Homo sapiens: one gene and its partner. The protein of the gene in region 1 interacts with the protein of each later gene in a pairwise test. Each region holds a gene or a part of one and is shown on either strand. Other genes may lie near its edges. The genes, in order: ABCA1 and AOX1.

The links.
Region 2: the proteins of ABCA1 (region 1) and AOX1 interact in a two-hybrid assay, tested with the Homo sapiens proteins (one study listed by BioGRID).

The regions. Positions count from the first base shown.
Region 1 is NC_000009.12:104,780,237-104,785,184, reverse strand, and holds the end of ABCA1 (phospholipid-transporting ATPase ABCA1), read left to right. Parts: intron 1-729; coding exon 730-870; 3' UTR 871-4,179; downstream 4,180-4,948. UniProt on the Homo sapiens protein: Catalyzes the translocation of specific phospholipids from the cytoplasmic to the extracellular/lumenal leaflet of membrane coupled to the hydrolysis of ATP.
Region 2 is NC_000002.12:200,602,981-200,610,278, forward strand, and holds part of AOX1 (aldehyde oxidase), read left to right. Parts: intron 1-286; coding exon 287-376; intron 377-1,036; coding exon 1,037-1,117; intron 1,118-1,715; coding exon 1,716-1,860; intron 1,861-2,555; coding exon 2,556-2,648; intron 2,649-6,003; coding exon 6,004-6,155; intron 6,156-6,340; coding exon 6,341-6,434; intron 6,435-7,298. UniProt on the Homo sapiens protein: Oxidase with broad substrate specificity, oxidizing aromatic azaheterocycles, such as N1-methylnicotinamide, N-methylphthalazinium and phthalazine, as well as aldehydes, such as benzaldehyde, retinal, pyridoxal, and vanillin.

The DNA of each region.
Region 1 (4,948 bases):
GTAATAATAACCATAAAAACTACCATTTAGTGAGCACCTACCATGGGCCAGGCATTTTACTTGGTGCCTAATCCTATTTAAATTAGATAAAAAAGTACCAAATAGGTCCTGACACTTAAGAAGTACTCAGTAAATATTTTCTTCCCTCTTCCCTTTAATCAAGACCGTATGTGCCAAAGTAAATGGATGACTGAGCAGTTGGTGATGTAGGGGTGGGGGGCGATATAGAAAGTCAGTTTTTGGCCGGGCGTGGTGGCTCATGCCTGTAATCCCAGCACTTTGGGAGGCTGAGGAGCAGGCAGATCATGAGGTCAGGAGATCCAGATAATCCTGGCCAACAGGGTGAAACCCCGTCTCTACTAAAAATACAAAAATTAGCTGGGCATGGTGGTGCGCACTTGTAGTCCCAGCTACTTGCGAGGCTGAGGCAGGAGAATTGCTCGAACCCAGGAGGTGGAGGTTACAGTGAGCCAAGGTCTCGCCACTGCACTCCAGCCTGGGGACAGAGCAAGACCCCATTTCAAGGGGGGAAAAAAAGTCTATTTTTAAGTTGTTATTGCTTTTTTCAAGTATTCTTCCCTCCTTCACACACAGTTTTCTAGTTAATCCATTTATGTAATTCTGTATGCTCCTACTTGACCTAATTTCAACATCTGGAAAAATAGAACTAGAATAAAGAATGAGCAAGTTGAGTGGTATTTATAAAGGTCCATCTTAATCTTTTAACAGGTATTTGTGAACTTTGCCAAGGACCAAAGTGATGATGACCACTTAAAAGACCTCTCATTACACAAAAACCAGACAGTAGTGGACGTTGCAGTTCTCACATCTTTTCTACAGGATGAGAAAGTGAAAGAAAGCTATGTATGAAGAATCCTGTTCATACGGGGTGGCTGAAAGTAAAGAGGAACTAGACTTTCCTTTGCACCATGTGAAGTGTTGTGGAGAAAAGAGCCAGAAGTTGATGTGGGAAGAAGTAAACTGGATACTGTACTGATACTATTCAATGCAATGCAATTCAATGCAATGAAAACAAAATTCCATTACAGGGGCAGTGCCTTTGTAGCCTATGTCTTGTATGGCTCTCAAGTGAAAGACTTGAATTTAGTTTTTTACCTATACCTATGTGAAACTCTATTATGGAACCCAATGGACATATGGGTTTGAACTCACACTTTTTTTTTTTTTTTTGTTCCTGTGTATTCTCATTGGGGTTGCAACAATAATTCATCAAGTAATCATGGCCAGCGATTATTGATCAAAATCAAAAGGTAATGCACATCCTCATTCACTAAGCCATGCCATGCCCAGGAGACTGGTTTCCCGGTGACACATCCATTGCTGGCAATGAGTGTGCCAGAGTTATTAGTGCCAAGTTTTTCAGAAAGTTTGAAGCACCATGGTGTGTCATGCTCACTTTTGTGAAAGCTGCTCTGCTCAGAGTCTATCAACATTGAATATCAGTTGACAGAATGGTGCCATGCGTGGCTAACATCCTGCTTTGATTCCCTCTGATAAGCTGTTCTGGTGGCAGTAACATGCAACAAAAATGTGGGTGTCTCCAGGCACGGGAAACTTGGTTCCATTGTTATATTGTCCTATGCTTCGAGCCATGGGTCTACAGGGTCATCCTTATGAGACTCTTAAATATACTTAGATCCTGGTAAGAGGCAAAGAATCAACAGCCAAACTGCTGGGGCTGCAAGCTGCTGAAGCCAGGGCATGGGATTAAAGAGATTGTGCGTTCAAACCTAGGGAAGCCTGTGCCCATTTGTCCTGACTGTCTGCTAACATGGTACACTGCATCTCAAGATGTTTATCTGACACAAGTGTATTATTTCTGGCTTTTTGAATTAATCTAGAAAATGAAAAGATGGAGTTGTATTTTGACAAAAATGTTTGTACTTTTTAATGTTATTTGGAATTTTAAGTTCTATCAGTGACTTCTGAATCCTTAGAATGGCCTCTTTGTAGAACCCTGTGGTATAGAGGAGTATGGCCACTGCCCCACTATTTTTATTTTCTTATGTAAGTTTGCATATCAGTCATGACTAGTGCCTAGAAAGCAATGTGATGGTCAGGATCTCATGACATTATATTTGAGTTTCTTTCAGATCATTTAGGATACTCTTAATCTCACTTCATCAATCAAATATTTTTTGAGTGTATGCTGTAGCTGAAAGAGTATGTACGTACGTATAAGACTAGAGAGATATTAAGTCTCAGTACACTTCCTGTGCCATGTTATTCAGCTCACTGGTTTACAAATATAGGTTGTCTTGTGGTTGTAGGAGCCCACTGTAACAATACTGGGCAGCCTTTTTTTTTTTTTTTTTAATTGCAACAATGCAAAAGCCAAGAAAGTATAAGGGTCACAAGTCTAAACAATGAATTCTTCAACAGGGAAAACAGCTAGCTTGAAAACTTGCTGAAAAACACAACTTGTGTTTATGGCATTTAGTACCTTCAAATAATTGGCTTTGCAGATATTGGATACCCCATTAAATCTGACAGTCTCAAATTTTTCATCTCTTCAATCACTAGTCAAGAAAAATATAAAAACAACAAATACTTCCATATGGAGCATTTTTCAGAGTTTTCTAACCCAGTCTTATTTTTCTAGTCAGTAAACATTTGTAAAAATACTGTTTCACTAATACTTACTGTTAACTGTCTTGAGAGAAAAGAAAAATATGAGAGAACTATTGTTTGGGGAAGTTCAAGTGATCTTTCAATATCATTACTAACTTCTTCCACTTTTTCCAGAATTTGAATATTAACGCTAAAGGTGTAAGACTTCAGATTTCAAATTAATCTTTCTATATTTTTTAAATTTACAGAATATTATATAACCCACTGCTGAAAAAGAAAAAAATGATTGTTTTAGAAGTTAAAGTCAATATTGATTTTAAATATAAGTAATGAAGGCATATTTCCAATAACTAGTGATATGGCATCGTTGCATTTTACAGTATCTTCAAAAATACAGAATTTATAGAATAATTTCTCCTCATTTAATATTTTTCAAAATCAAAGTTATGGTTTCCTCATTTTACTAAAATCGTATTCTAATTCTTCATTATAGTAAATCTATGAGCAACTCCTTACTTCGGTTCCTCTGATTTCAAGGCCATATTTTAAAAAATCAAAAGGCACTGTGAACTATTTTGAAGAAAACACAACATTTTAATACAGATTGAAAGGACCTCTTCTGAAGCTAGAAACAATCTATAGTTATACATCTTCATTAATACTGTGTTACCTTTTAAAATAGTAATTTTTTACATTTTCCTGTGTAAACCTAATTGTGGTAGAAATTTTTACCAACTCTATACTCAATCAAGCAAAATTTCTGTATATTCCCTGTGGAATGTACCTATGTGAGTTTCAGAAATTCTCAAAATACGTGTTCAAAAATTTCTGCTTTTGCATCTTTGGGACACCTCAGAAAACTTATTAACAACTGTGAATATGAGAAATACAGAAGAAAATAATAAGCCCTCTATACATAAATGCCCAGCACAATTCATTGTTAAAAAACAACCAAACCTCACACTACTGTATTTCATTATCTGTACTGAAAGCAAATGCTTTGTGACTATTAAATGTTGCACATCATTCATTCACTGTATAGTAATCATTGACTAAAGCCATTTGTCTGTGTTTTCTTCTTGTGGTTGTATATATCAGGTAAAATATTTTCCAAAGAGCCATGTGTCATGTAATACTGAACCACTTTGATATTGAGACATTAATTTGTACCCTTGTTATTATCTACTAGTAATAATGTAATACTGTAGAAATATTGCTCTAATTCTTTTCAAAATTGTTGCATCCCCCTTAGAATGTTTCTATTTCCATAAGGATTTAGGTATGCTATTATCCCTTCTTATACCCTAAGATGAAGCTGTTTTTGTGCTCTTTGTTCATCATTGGCCCTCATTCCAAGCACTTTACGCTGTCTGTAATGGGATCTATTTTTGCACTGGAATATCTGAGAATTGCAAAACTAGACAAAAGTTTCACAACAGATTTCTAAGTTAAATCATTTTCATTAAAAGGAAAAAAGAAAAAAAATTTTGTATGTCAATAACTTTATATGAAGTATTAAAATGCATATTTCTATGTTGTAATATAATGAGTCACAAAATAAAGCTGTGACAGTTCTGTTGGTCTACAGAAATTTACTTTTGTGCATTTGTGGCACCACCTACTGTTGAAGGGTTATAAAGCCATTAGAAAAGTAGAGGGGAAGTGATTTGGATCAAAAGGAAAAACTTTAGAAAAGATTCAAATGTTCCCTTAATCATAAAAGAGAACTGAGGGGACTACTTGAAAATAAAAGGTTGTTTTGTATTTTCATGTTGGTTAAGATACTGAGTAACTGGTATTAAGTGTTAGAGGTTTTTAGATAAATATTCTGCTTAATGATTATGAAGCTGCACTGAGATTTCTGAAAATGCTCTGTAGCTGAGCTTATTTAATAAATGTTCACTTGGTATAGGGGAAGCTACAAAGGCAGCCTTCAGTGTCCTTTTGTTTATTCAACCAAAAATATAAGGACACAATGTAGCAGTTATACTGGGAAGGTGCTGGGGGTGGTGGCAATGGTGAGCAGGAAGGCGAAGTAGATATGGAAACAGAAATGATACTAATATCGGTGATTCCTTCCTTTTTTCCTGTAATAAGTGCTGTGCAGACAACATATGAGCAGTGCTGATAAATGTAAATGTATTTTTCATAGCTCATTAAGAATCAGTTTCAGAAAGAGATGTCTGCTTATTTTGCTACTTGAAGAATCCCTGTCAAACAGTCCTTTTGAGGAAGTACAAGAGGCTGTCTCTATTTGTGACCTCAGGAATGGCTGTGACAGTGTCGTGAGCAGTCCTTTTCCTGTGGCACAGATCTGAACTTTGTGTGCAGAAAAATCTTGGCTTCAAGTGAGCCA
Region 2 (7,298 bases), on another chromosome or scaffold:
AACAGTTAATCATTATTAATATTTACTATTTAATGCTATGTGCCACGCTTAGTTATAAGATCTTTATGTCTTTTAACTTATTTAGTAATCACTGCTATTCAAAATTTTCTGTAAGCTCAGGTTTTTCATTAATGTTGGTTTGGATATGTTTAAGTACAAATGGCTCTCTTTCATGGCATCTAACGATATTGATTCAGCATTATGTTTCAACTGGCATTCACCTGCTTTATTTACTAGTTAGTAGAATCAGCAATAAATTCCTAGTGATTTGTTTTTTGTCCACTAGACTTCGGGCTGCTGTCAAAGTAAAGAAAATGGGGTTTGCTGTTTGGATCAAGGAATCAATGGATTGCCAGAATTTGAGGAAGGAAGTAAGGTCAGTGAAATGTAAAGCTTTTATAAGGCTTTCTCAGGACATGAACAGGAGCCAACATACTCTTAGGAAGAACAAATGGCTACCCAAGTTGACTAACTTGAGGTATGTCAACATGTGCCCTCTCCCATTCTCACTCCATCTCTCTATAAAAAAAAATTATATCGCAGCAACTTTGTCCTCATTCCAGATATTATTCCCATTTAAATACAGTTATCTACAGGAGGGAAAACACATTGGTTCCTTAGTGTCTCTTAGCTTTTAAAAGCATTTTTTCAAGTTATTTTTCAAGGGCCAGAAGTAAAGTGGAGATGTCATGAAAATAAAAGAACAGGTAGAACAAGTAGAGACAGGAGAGGTTCAGGGAGCCGTTCTTGTTCCAGCTGTGTCTGCGGCTGCTGCCTCCTCTTCTACTGTCCCCAGACTCCAAAGAGAAGGTACAGGGAGTTGAGGCCTCCAGAGGCCCATTGGCATCAGCACTGAGTTGCTGATGACAAGGTTTGTGTTAGAGCCCTTGGTTTGGAGCGCGGGGATTGTGGCTGGCCAGTGGACTTTTTTGTCGGTTTGCTGTATCTGACTGTGTATCTATATCTTTTGACCTTATTCCACAAAGGATTTTAAAGTTGCTCGATAACAGTAATTTCTGATATGTTCTCTTTTTAGACAAGTCCAAAACTCTTCGCAGAAGAGGAGTTTCTGCCATTGGATCCAACCCAGGAACTGATATTTCCTCCTGAGCTAATGGTGAGTAAAGCAATGTTGAGCTCATCCTAGAAGAATTCATGGTGAAATATCAGGAAGGGTATTTGTTTATGGGTTCTCTCAAAAGCTGATTGGCAAATAGGTGAGGCCTCTCTGTCATCCTTAGCTCAAGGTCTAAAGAGTATGGACTAAGGAAGAGGAGGAGGAATGGGGGTGGGGTCCCCATGGGGGACAGCTGAGTTGACTGTAAGAAGCAGCAGATAGCTTCTATAAAATCGTGAAATCACAGTGTTTGTAGGTATAGACATGTTTCCTACTTTCACTTTTGCTGAAGTTTATTCCTCCATAGAATGATTTAACAAGATTCAGCATGTTACTATATTTGCTAACATTAAAATGATGTTCTTTGAGACAAGAGCACCAAAGGGAGACAGACCAAGCAGTTCCCAGGAGTAAAGAACCATCGTGCTTTTATTCTGAATTCTAATTCCTTGTAAAGCTCTACTTTTAGGTCACTTTGTACTTTATTTTTTAGAAGATATGTATTTTCTCATTCTGTATCTACAGTGCTAATGATTGAGTGGAAACAGGTGGAGATGGCATCATTGGGTACCTTGAATCCCTATTGCTTTTTCAATAGATAATGGCTGAGAAACAGTCGCAAAGGACCAGGGTGTTTGGCAGTGAGAGAATGATGTGGTTTTCCCCCGTGACCCTGAAGGAACTGCTGGAATTTAAATTCAAGTATCCCCAGGCTCCTGTTATCATGGGAAACACCTCTGTGGGTATGTAGAACCCCAGGGATTTTTTATAGGGAAATTGAGAAAAAGGGCTTGGGATGGGGCCGGGGTGGGCTGGGGAAACTTCATATACATGTGTTCTCAGGAAAAGCAGTCTGAAATAGCATTTTTAATCATTTGAGCTAGACTTCCTGAGCATTGCTCAAGAGACTTTCTAACTGTTATTAAGTAGATTCCTCTTGCCTCTTATTGGAGCAGTGTCAAGAGTTGTACCGAAGGGGCTTGCTCCATAGCAAACCAGCAGCAGGAGCTTCAGTGACAGCTGTCCTGTCTTTCCTTTTGGGGACTAATCTGGGCCTCAAATTTCAAATTGCTCTTTGTTTCCTCTCTCAGGGTGTCTCAATAGGTATATGTTTTACTTAAACAACCGCTACAGGGTCTTCCTGTTGCATCCAGTGTGTGCTCAGCTTGAGGAGCAGCCCCTAGAGTCTTCCCAGAGAGAATTTTGAACATGCCATATGGCCCAAGTTTCAAGGTTGACAATTCCAGAGTCTTCCAAGTTTGATGAAAATCTATCCAGCCATTCTCTCTGTATGTGATTTGGCAATAAACAGATGAATAGAAAGATACAATATTTTTAGATATTTAAAGATATTAGTTTAATAATAATTTCAAATTTAAAAGGCAGTTAGTTCCTTTATTCTAGTCTTATTGATTTTTTTTTTTTTTTGATCCTTTAGGGCCTGAAGTGAAATTTAAAGGCGTCTTTCACCCAGTTATAATTTCTCCTGATAGAATTGAAGAACTGAGTGTTGTAAACCATGCATATAATGGTGAGTTCTCAAGTCCCTGTTTTCTTAGTTAAGATGCATTAATCAATTTATTTACCTTGCCCAGCAGACAAGCAGAAAAAGAATGATTCCTAATTATAATACACACAGAGATTCTCTTCTTATAAGAATGATATGTTTGTTGGCCACATAAATGTCTTCTTTTGAGGAGTGTCTGTTCATATCCTTTGCCCATTTTTTGATGGGGTTGCTTTTTCCTTATAAATTTATTTAAGTTCCTTGCAGATTCTGGATATTAGACCTTTGTCAGTGGGTAGATTGCAAAACTTTTCTCGCATTCTGTAGGTTGCCTGTTCACTCTGACACTAATTTCTTTTGCTAGGCATAAACTCTTTAGTTTAATTAGATCCCATTTGTCAATTTTGGCTTTTGCTGCAATTGCTTTTAGTGTTTTAGTCATGAAGTCTTTGCCCATGCCTATGTCCTGAATGGTATTGCCTAGGTTTTCTTTTAGGGTATTTATGGTTTTGGGTTTTACATTTAAGTCTTCAATCCATCTTGAGTTAATTTTTGTATAAGGTGTAAGGAAGGGGTCCAATTTCGTTTTCTGCATATGGCTAGCCAGTTTTCCCAGCACCATTTATTAAATAGGGAATTCTTTCCCCATTGCTTGTTTTTGTCAAGTTTGTCAAAGATCAGATGGTTGTGGATGTGTGGTTTTATTTCTAAGGTCTCTGTTCTGTTCCACTGGTCTATATATCTGTTTTGGTGCCAGTACCATGCTGTTTTGGTTACTGTAGTCTTGTAGTATAGTTTGAAGTCAGATAGTGTGACGCCTCCAGCTTTGTTCTTTTTGCTTAGGATTGTCTTGGCTATACAGGCTCTTTTTGGTTCCTTATGAAATTTAAAGTAGTTTTTCTAATTCTGTGAAGAAAGTCAATGGTAGCTTGATGGGGATAGCATTGAATCTGTAAATTACTTTGGGCAGTATGGCCATTTTCATGGTATTGATTCTTCCTATCCATGAGCATGGAATGTTTCTCCATTTGTTTGTGTCCTCTCTTATTTCCTTAAGCAGTGGTTGGTAGTTCTTCCTGAAGAGGTCCTTAACATCCCTTGTAAATTGTATTCCTAGGTATTTTCTTCTCTTTGTAGCAATTGTGAATGGGAGTTCATTCATGATTTGGCTCTCTGCTTGTCTATTGTTGGTGTATTGGAATGCTTGTGATTTTTGCACATTGATTTTGTATCCTGAGACTTTGCTGAATTTGCATATCAGCTTAAGGAGTTTTTGGGCTGAGACGATGGGGTTTTCTAAGTACACAATCATGTCATCTGCAAACAGAGGCAATTTGACTCCCTGTCTTCCTATTTGAATACCTGTATTTCTTTCTCTTGCCTGATTGCACTGGGCATAACTTCCAATACTACGTTGAATAGTAGTGGTGAGAGAGGGCATCCTTATCTTGTGCCAGTTTTCAAAGGGAATCCTTCCAGCTTTTGCCCATTCAGTATGATATTGGCTATAGGTTTGTCACAAATAGCTCTTATTATTTTGAGATATGATCCATCAATACCTAGTTTATTGAAAGTTTTTAACATGAGGAGATGTTGAATTTTATCAAAGGCCTTTTCTGCATCTATAGAGATAATCATGTGGTTTTCGTCACTGGTTCTGTTTATGTGAGGGATTACATTTATTGATTTGCATATATTGAACCAGCCTTGCATCCCTGGGATGAAGCCAACTTGATCGTGGTGGATAAGCTTTTCGATGTGCTGCTCATCATCACTGATCATTAGGGAAATGCAAATCAAAACCACACTGAGATACCATCTCATGCCAGTCAGAATGGTGATTATTAAAAAGTCAGGAAACAATAAATGCTGGCAAGGCTGTGGAGAAATAGTAATGCTTTTACACTGTTGGTAGGGGTGTAAATTAATTCAACCGTTGTGGAAGACAGTGTGGTGATTCCTCAGGGATCTAGAACCAGAAATACCATTTGACCCAGTAATCCCATTACTGAGTATATACCCAAAGGATTATAAATCATTCCACTATAAAGACACATGCACACTTAGGTATATTGCAGCACTATTTACAATAGCAAAGACTTGGAACCAACCCAAATGCACATCAATGATAGACTGGATAAAGAAACTGTGACAGATACACACCATGGAATACTATGCAGCCATAAAAAAGAATGAGATCATGTCCTTTGCAGGGACATGGATGAAGCTGGAAGCCATCATTCTCAGCAAACTAACACAGGAACAGAAAACCAAACACCACATGCTCTTACTCATAAGTGGGAGTTGAACAATGAGAACACATGGACACAGGAAGGGGAACAACACATACCGGGGCCTGTTGGCGGGTGGGGAGCAAGGGAAGGGAGAGCATTAGGACAAATACCTAATGCATGCAAGGCTTAAAACCTAGATGACAGGTTGATAGGTGCAGCAAACCACCATAGCACATGTATACCTATGTAACAAACCTGCACATTCTGTACATGTATCCTAGAACTTAAAGTAAAATAAAAGAAAAAGAAAATGGGGACAGAAAGCATAAAAAAAAAGAATGATAACATTCTGGAGGAAGACTGAGGGAAGAATTCTCTAAAGTTAATCTAAATACTAATTGTCTGAATAGTTCAGTTTTTACTGAAGAACTTCTTCTGTCTGCAATATCAGAGAAATGTAACAACTATTCAATGAAGGATACGGTGCTAAGTGCTGGACAGAAGATAAAGATGAATATAACACAGTCTTTGCTCTTTAAAACCACAGTAGCGAGTTTATGTATTCAACAGCTTACAGACTGGTTTTTCTACTCCTGTAGAGGAAATTGATATAATGGCAATGATAAGAAGCAATAGAAATGTGGGTTTGCAGTACAGCCTCTGAAATCTAACTCTTGACAATGGCATATATTAGCTGTCAGATCTTAGGCAAGTTACTCAACTCTCAGTTTCTTCATCTGTGAAATGGGGCTATTAATATCTCATAGGTATGTTCAGATTTAAGGAGATTATCTAAAGCATTCAACATAATACTCAATAGAGTGAGTGTTCAAAGAATTCAGCCTTCATTACCTCCATCAACACCACTTACATCACTACCACCACCTCTATCATTACCCCACCTTCATCACCACCACCACACCACCCCCTCAACTGCTATCCCTACCACCATCGCCTCACCACCACTTTCATTACTACCATTACCTTCATCACCATCACCACCATCACTGCCCATCACCACCATCACCAATAAGCAGGGCAGCATGTATCCAGTATAAAGATTCTATGTCTGTAGCTTTGGTCTAATGGACATTTTCAGATCAGCAGTGATCGCACTGTGTTATTTACAAATGACTTCATTTCAGGACTCACCCTTGGTGCTGGTCTCAGCCTAGCCCAGGTGAAGGACATTTTGGCTGATGTAGTCCAGAAGCTTCCAGAGGAGAAGACACAGATGTACCATGCTCTCCTGAAGCATTTGGGAACTCTGGCTGGGTCCCAGATCAGGAACATGGCTGTATGTATCTGATGACAGTAAACTCTGGTATGCATCCCTTGGGTGACTCTCCCTGATGAATCATGACATTTTCATTCTTTTGGAACAGACAAAAAAAATAGTTCTCCAAAGCCTTGCTTAATCCTTATTTTAGCACTTGCTTTTTTATGATTACATAAATGAAAATAACTCATTATTTTTAAAAGTCTTTAGGGGGACACATCATTAGCAGGCATCCAGATTCAGATCTGAATCCCATCCTGGCTGTGGGTAACTGTACCCTCAACTTGCTATCAAAAGGTAAGTGACAGCCCCTACTTGGAGATTATTAAGCTGTTTCTCTACCCCTTTTTCTCTCTGGGGAGGCAGGAAATCCAGTCTTGAAAATGACTTTTCCCTATAATATCAATACATTTCTCTGCTTTTCTGGATACTGGAAATTTTGTGAGTCTTGTCTTAATAGCACAGGCTTTCTTCCCCTGTGTCTTTCTGGTTTTTTGTTTGTTTGTTTGTTTTTCCTCATACTGGTCACCCTACACTGGACATGTTTGTGTTGGTTAATGTCCGGATGTGATCTGATTATTGCTGGGAACTACATACTATTGAGAACTATTGGGTCCCTTTGTTGAAGACATTCTCCAGGTGGTACAGGAGTGTTGTGGCACCCACATCGTGCTTTGAGCTCACACTTAATTTATCATTGATGGAAACATACAGGTCTTTTTCAGGTGAAAAATGATTGGGCCTCATTCTATATTTATTTACTTGATTTTTGTTATTAAAACTAAGTCCACAACATCTAATTTATCGCTTCTTCCAACTTGCTTGAAAATTATTAGGAAGTTCTAATTGGTCCTCTGTAAATTTGTGGGGTTTTTTTTCGTTAAAAAATATGGACTAGTTTTCTATCATCTGCATTGTTAAATACTTACTCTTCATACCATTTAAACCATAAAACTATCTTTTTTTTTTTTTGAAATGGAGTCTCGCTCTGTCACCCAGTCTGGAGTGCAGTGGCACAATCTCAGCTCACTGCAACCTCTACCTCCTGGGTTCAAGCGATTCTCCTGCCTTGGCCTCCTGAGTAGCTAGGACTGCAGGCATGTGCCACCATGCCCAGCTAATTTTTGTATTTTTAATAGAGATGTGGTTTCACTATGTTGG